Linked DNA regions of Homo sapiens: region 1 is linked to region 2. Evidence: fine-mapped expression QTL. A gene starts in region 2. The other region holds a variant in brackets. All regions are shown on one strand. Distances are from middle to middle.

What was found. PIP is the estimated chance that this variant, and not a neighbour inherited with it, causes the effect. A credible set is the group of variants that fine-mapping cannot tell apart.
Region 1: its variant is the best candidate, but not a certain one, in a credible set for the expression of SMIM36 in testis (GTEx, PIP 0.73).

What each region holds. Positions count from the first base shown.
Region 1 is chr17:55,446,836-55,452,216 of GRCh38, forward strand. SMIM36 (small integral membrane protein 36) reads right to left here. Exons shown (of 5, transcript NM_001395421.2): 5 at 3,021-3,463. Among named protein-coding and RNA genes, the nearest start is that of MMD, 28 kb to the left of the region's middle. The variant C/T (reference allele first, on the strand shown) is at 3,432.
Region 2 is chr17:55,509,053-55,514,433 of GRCh38, forward strand. It overlaps SMIM36 (small integral membrane protein 36), which reads right to left and starts at 2,400. Exons shown (of 5, transcript NM_001395421.2): 1 at 1,827-2,400. The coding sequence starts at 2,282. The coding sequence ends at 2,001.

The sequences.
Region 1 (5,381 bases), 62 kb before region 2:
GGTGAGCTTACACACTACAGTCTAGTGACCTGGAAAATTCCATGACACTGGCTGAAGGGAATCACTCTATTTACTCTCGTTATTGCTGTTATTTGTAAGCTTCCAGAGCTTTATTTATTTTTCTTTTAGTTCTTTAATTATTCTCAAAGTTCAAACAGAGTTAGATCCACAGGATAAAACAGCAGATAAGGCCATCTACAGAAGGGACTTACGAGGATGTGGCTAGATAATATTCAATGAGTGATGTGTTAACATTCTTTCCACCCATCCAGTTGTCATCTGAAAAACAACCTCAGGTCAGGAAATTAGCTCAGGGTAGACATGAGAAGCTAAGGTTTCTTCATAGGAGGTTTTTGCTTTGTCTGGAGATCAGTATTATCACTACTAATTTTTTCCTCCTATATGATAATTTATCACATGTCACACAGATGGGCTCAAACCCTGGCTTCCCCTAATAGTGGCTATGAGGCTTGAGACAATCAGTCTCTCAGTTTCCATATCCTTTTATTTTATTATAGTAAAATATACATAACATAAAATTTATCATTTTAACCATTTTTTTTTCTTCTTTGAGATGGACTCTTGCTCTGTCGCCCAGGCTGGAGTGCAGTGGCGCGATCTCAGCTCACTGCAAGCTCCGCCTCCTGGGTTCACACCATTCTCCTGCCTCAGCCTCCCGAGTAGCAGGGACTACAGGTGTCCGCCACCACGCCCGGCTAATTTTTTTGTATTTTTAGTAGAGACGGGGTTTCACCGTGTTAGCCAGGATGGTCTCAATCTCCTGACCTCGTGATCCGCCCGCCTCGGCCTCCCAAAGTGCTGGGATTACAGGCTTGAGCCACTGCACCCAGCCCATTTTAACCATTTTTAAGTGTACGGTTCAGTAGCATTAAGAACATTCGCAATGTTGTACAACCATCATCACTATCCATTTCCAGAACTGGTTCATCATCCCAAGCAGAAACTCTGTGCCCATTGAATGATAACTTCCATTCCCCTCCATGTGGCCCCTGGTAATCACTACTCTACTTTCTGTCTCTATAAAACTTGCCTGTTCTAGGTACCTCATGTAAGTGGAATCATATAATATTTCTCCTTTTGTATATCGTTCATTTCATTTAGCATAATGTCTTAAGGTTCATCCATGTTGCAGCATGTATCAGAATTTCATTCCTTTCTAAGACTGAATAATCTTTCATTATATATATATATATATATCACATTTTCTTTATCCGTTCATCTATCAATGGACATTTCAGTTGTTTCCACCTTTTGGCTATTATGTTCATATCTGTTAAAGGGGATGTAATATCTATTTCACAGATTGTTGTGAGGGTAAGATAACCAGGAAAAGGCCTGGTATATAGTAGGTGCTCAGTTAATGCTATGTTTTTTTCTCCCTGGCATAAGTTATTTATTTATTTATTTATTTATTTATTTATTTTATTTATTTTTGAGATGGAGTCTTGCTCTATTGCCCAGGCTGGAGTGCAGTGGGGCAATCTCGGCTCACTGCAAGCTCCGCCTCCCGGGTTCACGCCATTCTCCTGCCTCAGCCTCCCAAGTAGCTGGGACTACAGGTGCCCGCCACCACGCCTGCCTAATTTTTTTGTATTTTTAGTAGAGACAGGGTTTCACCGTGTTAGCCAGGATGGTCTCGATCTCCTGACCTCGTGATCCACCCGCCTCGGGCTCCCAAAGTGCTGGGATTACAGGCTTGAGCCACCACGCCTGGCCAAAAGTTCTTATATTTCCTTTAAGGCCCAAGTAAAGGAGTGTGATGAAAGGGACCGGATAATTCTTTTCCTATTTCTGTGCCTCTTTTGATTTCTCTGTTATAACTTCTCTAATTAATGCTTGGCTCTTCAAATTATTTACGGGAGGAAGTATTCCAGAGGATATGGTCGGGTGTTGGGAGGGGGAGGTGGGGGAGATGGGCAGGATGAGGGTAGAAGACAGAAACAGACATCCAGTTAGTTATATGTTGCTAAGCCTAAGAATATTTGCTGGCTGAAGGATCTGTTAACTTTTTCCAAAACGGTAATAGTGCTTACTGCAGAGATAGCGATCTTTGAAACTTGACCCTCCTTATTGCAAAAGCCCCAAGTGTTCAGATCTGGGCCATCAGGACTGGAAAATGAAGATGTTTTACCTCACTTCATCCTTTTCTTCTTCTAGGGCAGCTACTTCATGCCAATATGCAGTAGGATAGGGCAAAAGGTTGTGTTTTTCTTCTGTAACTTAAAGGAAATAATGTATTTCAAAGGATCCTGAGAAAGACCATATTTATTCTTGAATTCTTGTGGAATGTAAGTGGTATAAGGGCTTCTGGGGAAGCCAACTGTAGTAAGTCCCTCTCTTTAGAAAGCAAATGTCTAGACAGCTGGAGGGACCTGTCTATCCAGGGTCATAAACAAGTTGGTTTAGAGTAGGGACTAAAATCTTGATCACTTTACATCTAGCTAAGTATGTTCTTTTGTGCCTTACAGATCAACTGGTGTAAAGCTGATTTTCCAAACTTCGAGTTTTAAGGGAAATGGATAGGATACTCTTTTTTAAAATTATTTTTATTATTTTATGACAGAGTCTTGCTCTGACGCCCAGGCTGGAGTGCAGTGGCGCAATCTAGGCTCACTGCAACCTCCACCTCCCCAGTTCAAGTGATTCTCGTGCTTCGGCCTCCCAAATAGCTGGGACTACAGAATCATGCTGCCACGCCCAGCTCATTTTTTTGTATCTTTAGTAGAGAGGGGGTTTCGCCATGTTGGCTAGGCTGGCCTGGAACTCCTGACATCAAGTGACCTGCCCGCCTTGGTCTCCCAAAATGCTGGGATTACAGGAGTGAGGCACTGCGCCTGGCCCAGGATACTCTTACTAAAGGGTTTCTGGAAGTTTCTTTTGGGAGCAGCACTCATTGAGTAACCGTCTACTCTGTGCAAAGCCCAATATTGAGCACTATGAAGGAGAAATGAAAGAAACAAAAGTCATGGAATAGGGACCCTGGAAAAAGGAAAAATGGATACCTGAAAATATTATGCGGGTTTATTTGGGTTGGGGTGATCACTGATAGATAGATGCAATGGATTGAAGGATGATCCCCCAAAAGACACGCCCATGTCCTTATCTCCAGAAACTGTGACTATTATTTTATGTTGTAAAATATTGAACATGACTTTATATGACATAAGATATGATTAAGTTAAATCTTGACAGTAGGAGTTTTTCCTGGAGTACCCAGATGGACCCTAAATGCAATCACAAGTATGAAGAGAGGCAGGAGAAGTTTTGAGAGAGAAGAAGAGGCAGCAGTATGACCAGGTAGGTTAAGATTTCAGTGATGTGATCACAAGCCAAGGAACTCCTGGAACCACCAAAAGGTAGAAGAGGCAAGCAATAGATTTTCTCCTGCAGCCTTCGGAGGGAGTACAGCC[C/T]CTCTGACACCTTGATTTCATACTCCTGGCTTCTAGAATATGAAAGAAAAAAAATTTCTGTTGTTTTAAGACACTCATTGTGTGCTAAATTGTTACAGCAGTCAAGTGAAAACTAACAGCATATCTAATCTTTGACCTTTTACATTTCCTCGTTGCTTTCTCTCAAGGGGTGTGGGGCAAATTCCTTATTCTTTTCTATCTAGTTCTGCTGCCATCAGAAGCATAGAACATGGATCTCACAGTGTTGCAAGTAGATCACTTAGTCTCCTTTGGTTTCATTTCACAGAGAACATGGTGGAGGCTCAGAGAAGTGAAGCGACTTGCCCACATTTACACAGTTGCTGAGTGTGAGCCCAGACGTGGAACCCGGGTGCAATACCCAGATAGTACTCCTTGCTTTCTGCTTACAGCCTAGAGAGAGGGAACTTGCAGCTGAGTTAGGAGACAGAGGCTCACAAGCACAAGGCAATACTGGCAGAGCGTAGACAACAGGTTTAGGCACCCGTGAGTCTACACAGTAACACTGGAGAGTCCACCAACTTTACCTCCAAGAAGACATCTCTAATCTGCCCACTTCTTTCCATCTCCTTTGCCAGCAACTCTCTGCTTAAAGATCCATAGTGGCTTCTTTTTTTTTTGAGACGGAGTCTCGCTCTGTCACCGAGGCTGAAGTGCAGTGGCACGATCATGGCTCACTGCAACCTCCGCCTCCCGAGTTCAAGCAATTCTCCTGCCTCAGCCTCTTGAGTAGCTGGAATTACAGGCATGCGCCACCACGCCTGGCTAATTTTTGTATTTTTAGTAGATATGGGGTTTCACCATGTTGGTCAGGCTGGTCTCGAACTCCTGACCTCATAATCCGCTCTCCTCAGCCTCCCAAAGTGCTGGGATTACAGGTGTGAGCCACTGTGCCCAGCCCCTAATGGCTTCTTATCATCCATAGACTAAGACCCTAATTCCAGATGGTGGCATAACAGGACCCTATATGATCCAATACTCGCACCTTCTCCAACCTCATTTTCTACCAGTGTCTCCATCCATCACCCTCCTTCAGCACCTCCAGCTGGCTGACCTTGGGTTGCCCTTGAAGCAGGCCAAGATCTTTCTTGTCTTTGTGTCTTTGCACTTGCTCTTGTCTGCCTGGAATACTTTCCCCATGGCTCTTCCTGTGGCTGACTTATGTTTTATCTTCAAGTTCCAGCTCACATAGCTCCCCACAGAGGCTTTGAAGTGGCTGTTTCCTCCATATGTTTCTTATCACAGGCTGAAACAGTCTTGTTTATTTGTTGAGTGTCTTCTCTTGTCACTAGATTAAAAATGCTATGAAAATTCTTGAGAAAGATACACCCTCTTTGTACCTGGCACAGTGCCTGACAGTGTAGGTACTTAATAAATATCTGTTGAATGAATGAATTTACCAGTTTTCCTAAACTGGGCTACCTAAGGAATTTACTATATATTTCCTGCACAAAAGATTTAAGACTCTTTCTTTCCTCCTGAACAATGCATATCAAAGTCTCTGAAAAATTCTAAAGAAAACTAAATTTAGACTGTATGCAGGGGCTGATGCCTGTAATCCTAGCATTTTGGGAGGCCAAGGCAGGAGGACCACTTGAGGCCAGGAGTTCGAGACCAGTCTGGGCAGCATAGTGAGACCTTGTCGCCACAAAAAATAAAAAGATTTTAAAAATTAGACAGGCAAGGTGGTGGGTGCCCTCAGCAACTTGGGAGGCTGAGGAGGGAGGATCACTTGAGCCCAGGAGTTTGAGGCTGCAGTAAGCTATGATTGGGCCACTGTACTCCAGCCTGGGTGACAGCATAAGACTCAATCTCTACAAAAAAAAAAAAAAAAAAAAAAGGAAACACTTTTAATAAGCCTGGCATATTTGACCCACATATGGTTTTAATAAGCCCAAGTGTATTTGGCCATACATCCTATTGTTCAGGAGT
Region 2 (5,381 bases):
AAATAAGAAACAAATTAAATTAAAAATAAACATCAAAACCTGAAAACAAAGTAACTGGGATTATCTTCACGTTTGTTACAGCTACTTAACAATCCAAAGGCAAAACAGTGCTCATTGTCAAAGCTGGCAGGGCAGGCTGGCCAGGCCCTCCTCTTCAGTTTTCTACAGGAGAAACCAAAATTGAATTTCTCACGTTTTCTTCACATGTTGGACACCATCAGACCTTCACAACCAATGGACTCTAATTATTTTGCTTTCAAGCTTTGTTTTTGTTATTTCTTCTTCTAAAAGGCCATCTCCTGTCCTACCCTTCAAGATTCCAACATACTTTGGTTCTTCTGGAAAAATAACTACTTATCTTTTAAGACAAATCATCTTATCTTTGGTACCTGAGTCTAAGATGAAATTGGCCATTCAACATTATTCGAATATTTCTTGAGTGTCTTCTGTGTGCCAGACACTCGTGTCTCTGTTGACTCCTGCATCCTATGCAGACTTCTAAAAGAGCATCTGCAAAGCTTTCTTATCTTTCATTGTCTAAGTCATGCCTGACCCTGCTTCCTTCTGTTGGGCGGCAAAGATCATATGGCAGGGTCATGACACTCATTTCTCTTTATTTCCACACAGGTCCTGATGGAAAGAAGAGGTTCAGTAAATCTCAAAGTAAATACATACGTTTCTCTGAGCTCAGGGAAGGGAGGGTTAATAAAAATACACACAATGGAGATAATAATTCAAAAATTTTGGAAATAGACTAATGAACAGGGGAAAAAACATACCATTCAACATCAACAAAGAGAGTGAAGGGAGAGCAGGCAGTGTTCTGGGGACAGATACACCAAGCTGTGGGGTCTCAGAATTCTTTCAATGAGTTTTCAATAACTTTGTATTGGATCAGGCCGGATTTGAGGATTGGAGATTAAATTTTTTATGAGGCATATGGAAGGAAATATTATCAGTGATCATCATCATAGCTAACCCTGTGTGTCAAGAACTGTCTCAAGTGCTTTTGGTGAATTAACTCATTTAAATAGCCCCAAAAGCTTAGTGGTCCAATCACTATCCCTGAGACACAGAGGTGGCTCAACTTAACCATGGCCACACAGCTAGCAAGTAGAAGAGGCAGGATTTGAACCCAGGCTCCAAGCTTTGTTGTTTTAGTTGTATGCATTCCTTATTCTGTCTTGGAGTTGGGAATAGAACGTGAAGAGCTGGTAGGTACAGAAATAATAATGTTCTGAAGTCTGAACAAGTTCAATGGGGTTGCCTTGACTGGGTGCAGCAGCTCACATCTATAATCCCAGCATTTTGTGAGACTGAGGCAGGAGGATTGCTTGAGGCCAGGAGTTCAATACCAGCCTGGGCAACATAGTGAAACCCCATCTCTACAAAAAAAAGACAGGCGTGGTGTCATGACCTTAGAGTCCTAGCTACATGGGAGGCTGAAGTGGGAAGGTTGCTTGAGCCCAGTTCAAGGCTGCAGTGAGCTATGATCACGCTGCTGCACTTAAGCATGGGCAACAGAGCAAGACTCTGTCTCTTAAAGAAAAGAAAAATAACAACAAAAAACTGGTTGCCTTGGAAAGAAAGAATTTGCAAAGAATAGACTAGACTGGAGTTAGTCTCATTCCTTATCACACACACGCACGTGCACGTGCACACACACACACACACAATATTGCATCCTTTCTCAAAAGTCATTCTCTCCTGTGAGTTGCAAGGACAGCAACATCAGAAATGTACCAGTAACCAACTTCATTATACTACAGCATTGCTGACAGTTTGCATTTGGAGAATTTGACTAAAGACCACTTTGGGCTTCTTACCTTAAACAGTTACTTTTGTCACAAAGAAGGTGACGAGAAAACAGCAAGTAAGACAGAGCTCTCACTTCCTTCATCAAGCGGGATACATGTGCTGAGAGAATTGGAGCCACGATAGGGAGCAGTTTGTCTCTATGGAAAGTCTAGTGGTCTCTCCCCAGTGTCCCTTAGCCAGCCTCATACCATGGTGCTTTTCTTTCCTAGTGGAGCAGGATCCCCCAAAGAAAGGCCAGGCCCCTTTGGCCAGTGGGGCCCAGCGACACTTGGGTGCATCACCACCAACCGGATGGAGGGCTGGGCCTCGAGAGTGGCCTCGGGCGCGTACTCCTTACTGGGATCCTTGCCTCGGCAGTCGTATAGCACGCAGGAGATGAGGAAGACCAGGAGCAAGATGACGTAGCTCGCAACTAGGATGATCAGGTTCAAGGTAACAGGGTCGATCTCCAAGTAGAATTCCATCACTTCTCCCACGGTGGAGAAGTGGGTCTAGAGAAAGGCAATTGGGGTCAGTTTGGGCATTGCAGAGAGCAGATCTTAGAGCATCGGAATAGCTACATTGGCTCTGGAGTAAAAATACATTAATCCCTACTGCTCCAGGAGACCTCGAGGATTAAAGCTGCTCGGTTTAATAACTTAAGCTTGCTGTTAATACCACAGCCACCAAAACACAGAAGCTGTCTGTCATCAGTTCGCCTACACAGAGAGAGAAAGAGAGAGAGAGAGATGGCTCATGAGTTACTGGATCATGGTATATAAGTAGAGCATTCACATAATTCAGCATCCACACAGGCAGTTTGGTGAGCAAAAGTAAGTGTTGTTAATAAGCACTCCATGATGACAGCTAAAAATTGGATTGTCCTGGACAATTGTGCTGTCTTTGTATAAGGGATGTTTAGTGCCATGTATGGAGTGATTTGGAAGATTAGGTCAGTAGGCTTTGGAAGTAAATGTGATTCTTCAACAAGAAGAAGATACTAGTGCCTGATATTTTCACCCTTTCTTCATTTGTTGCCATGTTTCTCATTAGTTAATTCAAAACTACTTTTTGAGTACTTACTTCCTGTGTTTCAGACACTACACTAAGCAAAGGGGATATGGCAGTGATAAGACAGAGAAGCAGGTAGTCTAGCAGGAAAGATAGCCTTTAAACAGATAATTGCACAATTCGCCATTTAAGAACAGTGGAAATCAGTTTATAAGGGACAAATAGAGGGTAAGAGGACAGCGTGTCCCAGTGTGGGTCAAAAAAGCTTCCATGCAGAAGCAACATTTAACCTATGACCTGAAGGATAAGTAGAATTTAGCTAAGTGAGAAGAGACAGGGAAGATTCTTCTAGCCACAAAGAACTGCATATGTGAAGACCCGAAGAGAAAGGAGCCTGGAAAATTGCAAGCACTGAAACAAGGGCAGTGTGACTGGAGCATAAAGAGAATGGGAGCACAAGGTGGGAGAGGTAGACAGGGGCCAGAAGGCACAGGCACTTGTGGGCCATACTCAGGACTTTAGATATGATCCTAGAGCAATGGGATGCCATTGAATGCTTTTGCACAGGGGAGTGACACTACTGAATTTGCATTTTAAAGAGATTCCCAAAGGCTGCCTCAAGGATGCAGAAAAACAAGCAAATTGAGAGGAAGATCAGATACTGATCGGATTACAGTTATTCCTTGATGTACAAATCACTGTCCTGCCTCAGTTGTAGCCTGGTCCCAATAGTCCCGCATAGGCTACTTCATGGGCATGTGCCCTGTGCAGCTGCACAACGTTCCATTCTCAGAAAGAGCTCACACTTGGTTTAATGCTCTGCTGTTGCCATCTTGAAATTCTTAACTTTTCAACTTTGCACTGGGACCCACAAATTACGTATCTGGTCTTGGTCTCATATATGTATTTTTGGCCAGCTAGGGCATCAGTAGCCTTTTCTCCAATAGCTAATAGGACTTTTTGGATACTCCTAGTTAAAAGCTGAAGTTCCCAAAGGTCTGCTGGTTTCTTAGTGTTAAGCTTCAATGGGCTAGTGTCTTCCTGTCAGCCTCCTTTATACTGAGCTTCCATGGGAACCTGAGCATTTGAAGATGTTGTAGTATGGGGTTCTTATGCATCTGGAGACGTTTTTCCAAATAATATCGTCCATGATTCTATGGTCCTGGACTAACTTATGGAATTATAATCCAGAAGATGCATGATTCTGAAACACCATAGATTTAGGGTCAGCCTTATTGGAATCTATTGGGTCTCTTTTGAATACAGATACCTGGATCAACCCTAGATCTACTGAGTTAGAATCTTTGGGACTAGAGTCTGGGGATCTGTATTAATAAAAATCTTCATGGATAATTTTGATCTGCAACCAGGATGGAGAATCATGGCTATAAAAGTAGAAAAAAAGGACGTGAAGAAAATGGGCCAATATGCGGTCACCAGGGCTTTGGTGATCTGTGAAGAGCTATTCCAGGGGGCATTCAACACAGAATTCAACACTGTCCAAGGTTTTAAGTCCGACAGATTCAGAGAATTAATTTTGTGCTTGCAAGGACATAGCTTTTTCTTCCTGAAGGCAGATCTACAGGAAAAGTCCATTTATAATTGGAAAGTTTCTGGTAAGCACAGAATCACACAGCAAGTAGAGTTGTCTGTTGCATCTGTAAGTCACGTGCAATGCACCAGACAGAAGCGAGGCTTTAAAAGGCAGCATTATGTACCAGATGCCTACTTTCTTTTGCCCACTCGGGACTCTAGATTCGTGACTTCTATAGTAAACTGAGTCTGGATAGCCCAGGTGCCTCCATGTAACAATATTTAGGGGAGTTATTTGGTGACTTTAAATAGATGACACAAGGATTGGTTAAAATTGACTCTGAAATGAGAACTACATATAGTTTAGTCCACATTAAATTAAACTGAAATATATGCAACAGATCTGCTCTATTGAGTGGAGTTTTCATATCAGATCTAGGTTTCTCTGTGTAATGGTGATAATCATTAATCATGGTGAGTGATCTGGTCTGGCCTGTCTTCTTAGATTGCCCCCATTCTGCTGATACCCGTGGTGTCCCGGAATGTTTTGTTCAAGGCTATTGTCTTTGGTTCCAGTATCTTATTTCTATTAGCAGAGAGTTTTTTGTTTCTGTTTCCACCAGTGCTCAAAGTTCATTTGAAGTCCAGTCTCATGAAGGCTTCACTTCCTTGCAATGTCTTCGGTGAAATGCTGGGTGCTTGTTTTACTTAATTAACCTGGGTGGCTCCTTTATTCATACTGGGGCTAACCTCACCCATCTTTCCTTCTTTTGCTGTCTTTAAGGAACTTTCCTCTGGTGCCATCTAGTGGCCAAAGCAGGGGCTGCTAAATAAAGAAAAAAACTTGGCAATAGGCAAACTGGGACGGATGACAGGGTGACATAGGTAAAAACAATAACAAGCTGCATTTCAGAAGAACCCCTTGAGGTAGCCTTGACATACTAATTCCTTCGTTTATTACAAATATGAATTGTGCACTTACCATATGCTAGCAAGGTACTAAGCACTTTAGAGCTTGATAATGTGATACTGAAAGCACA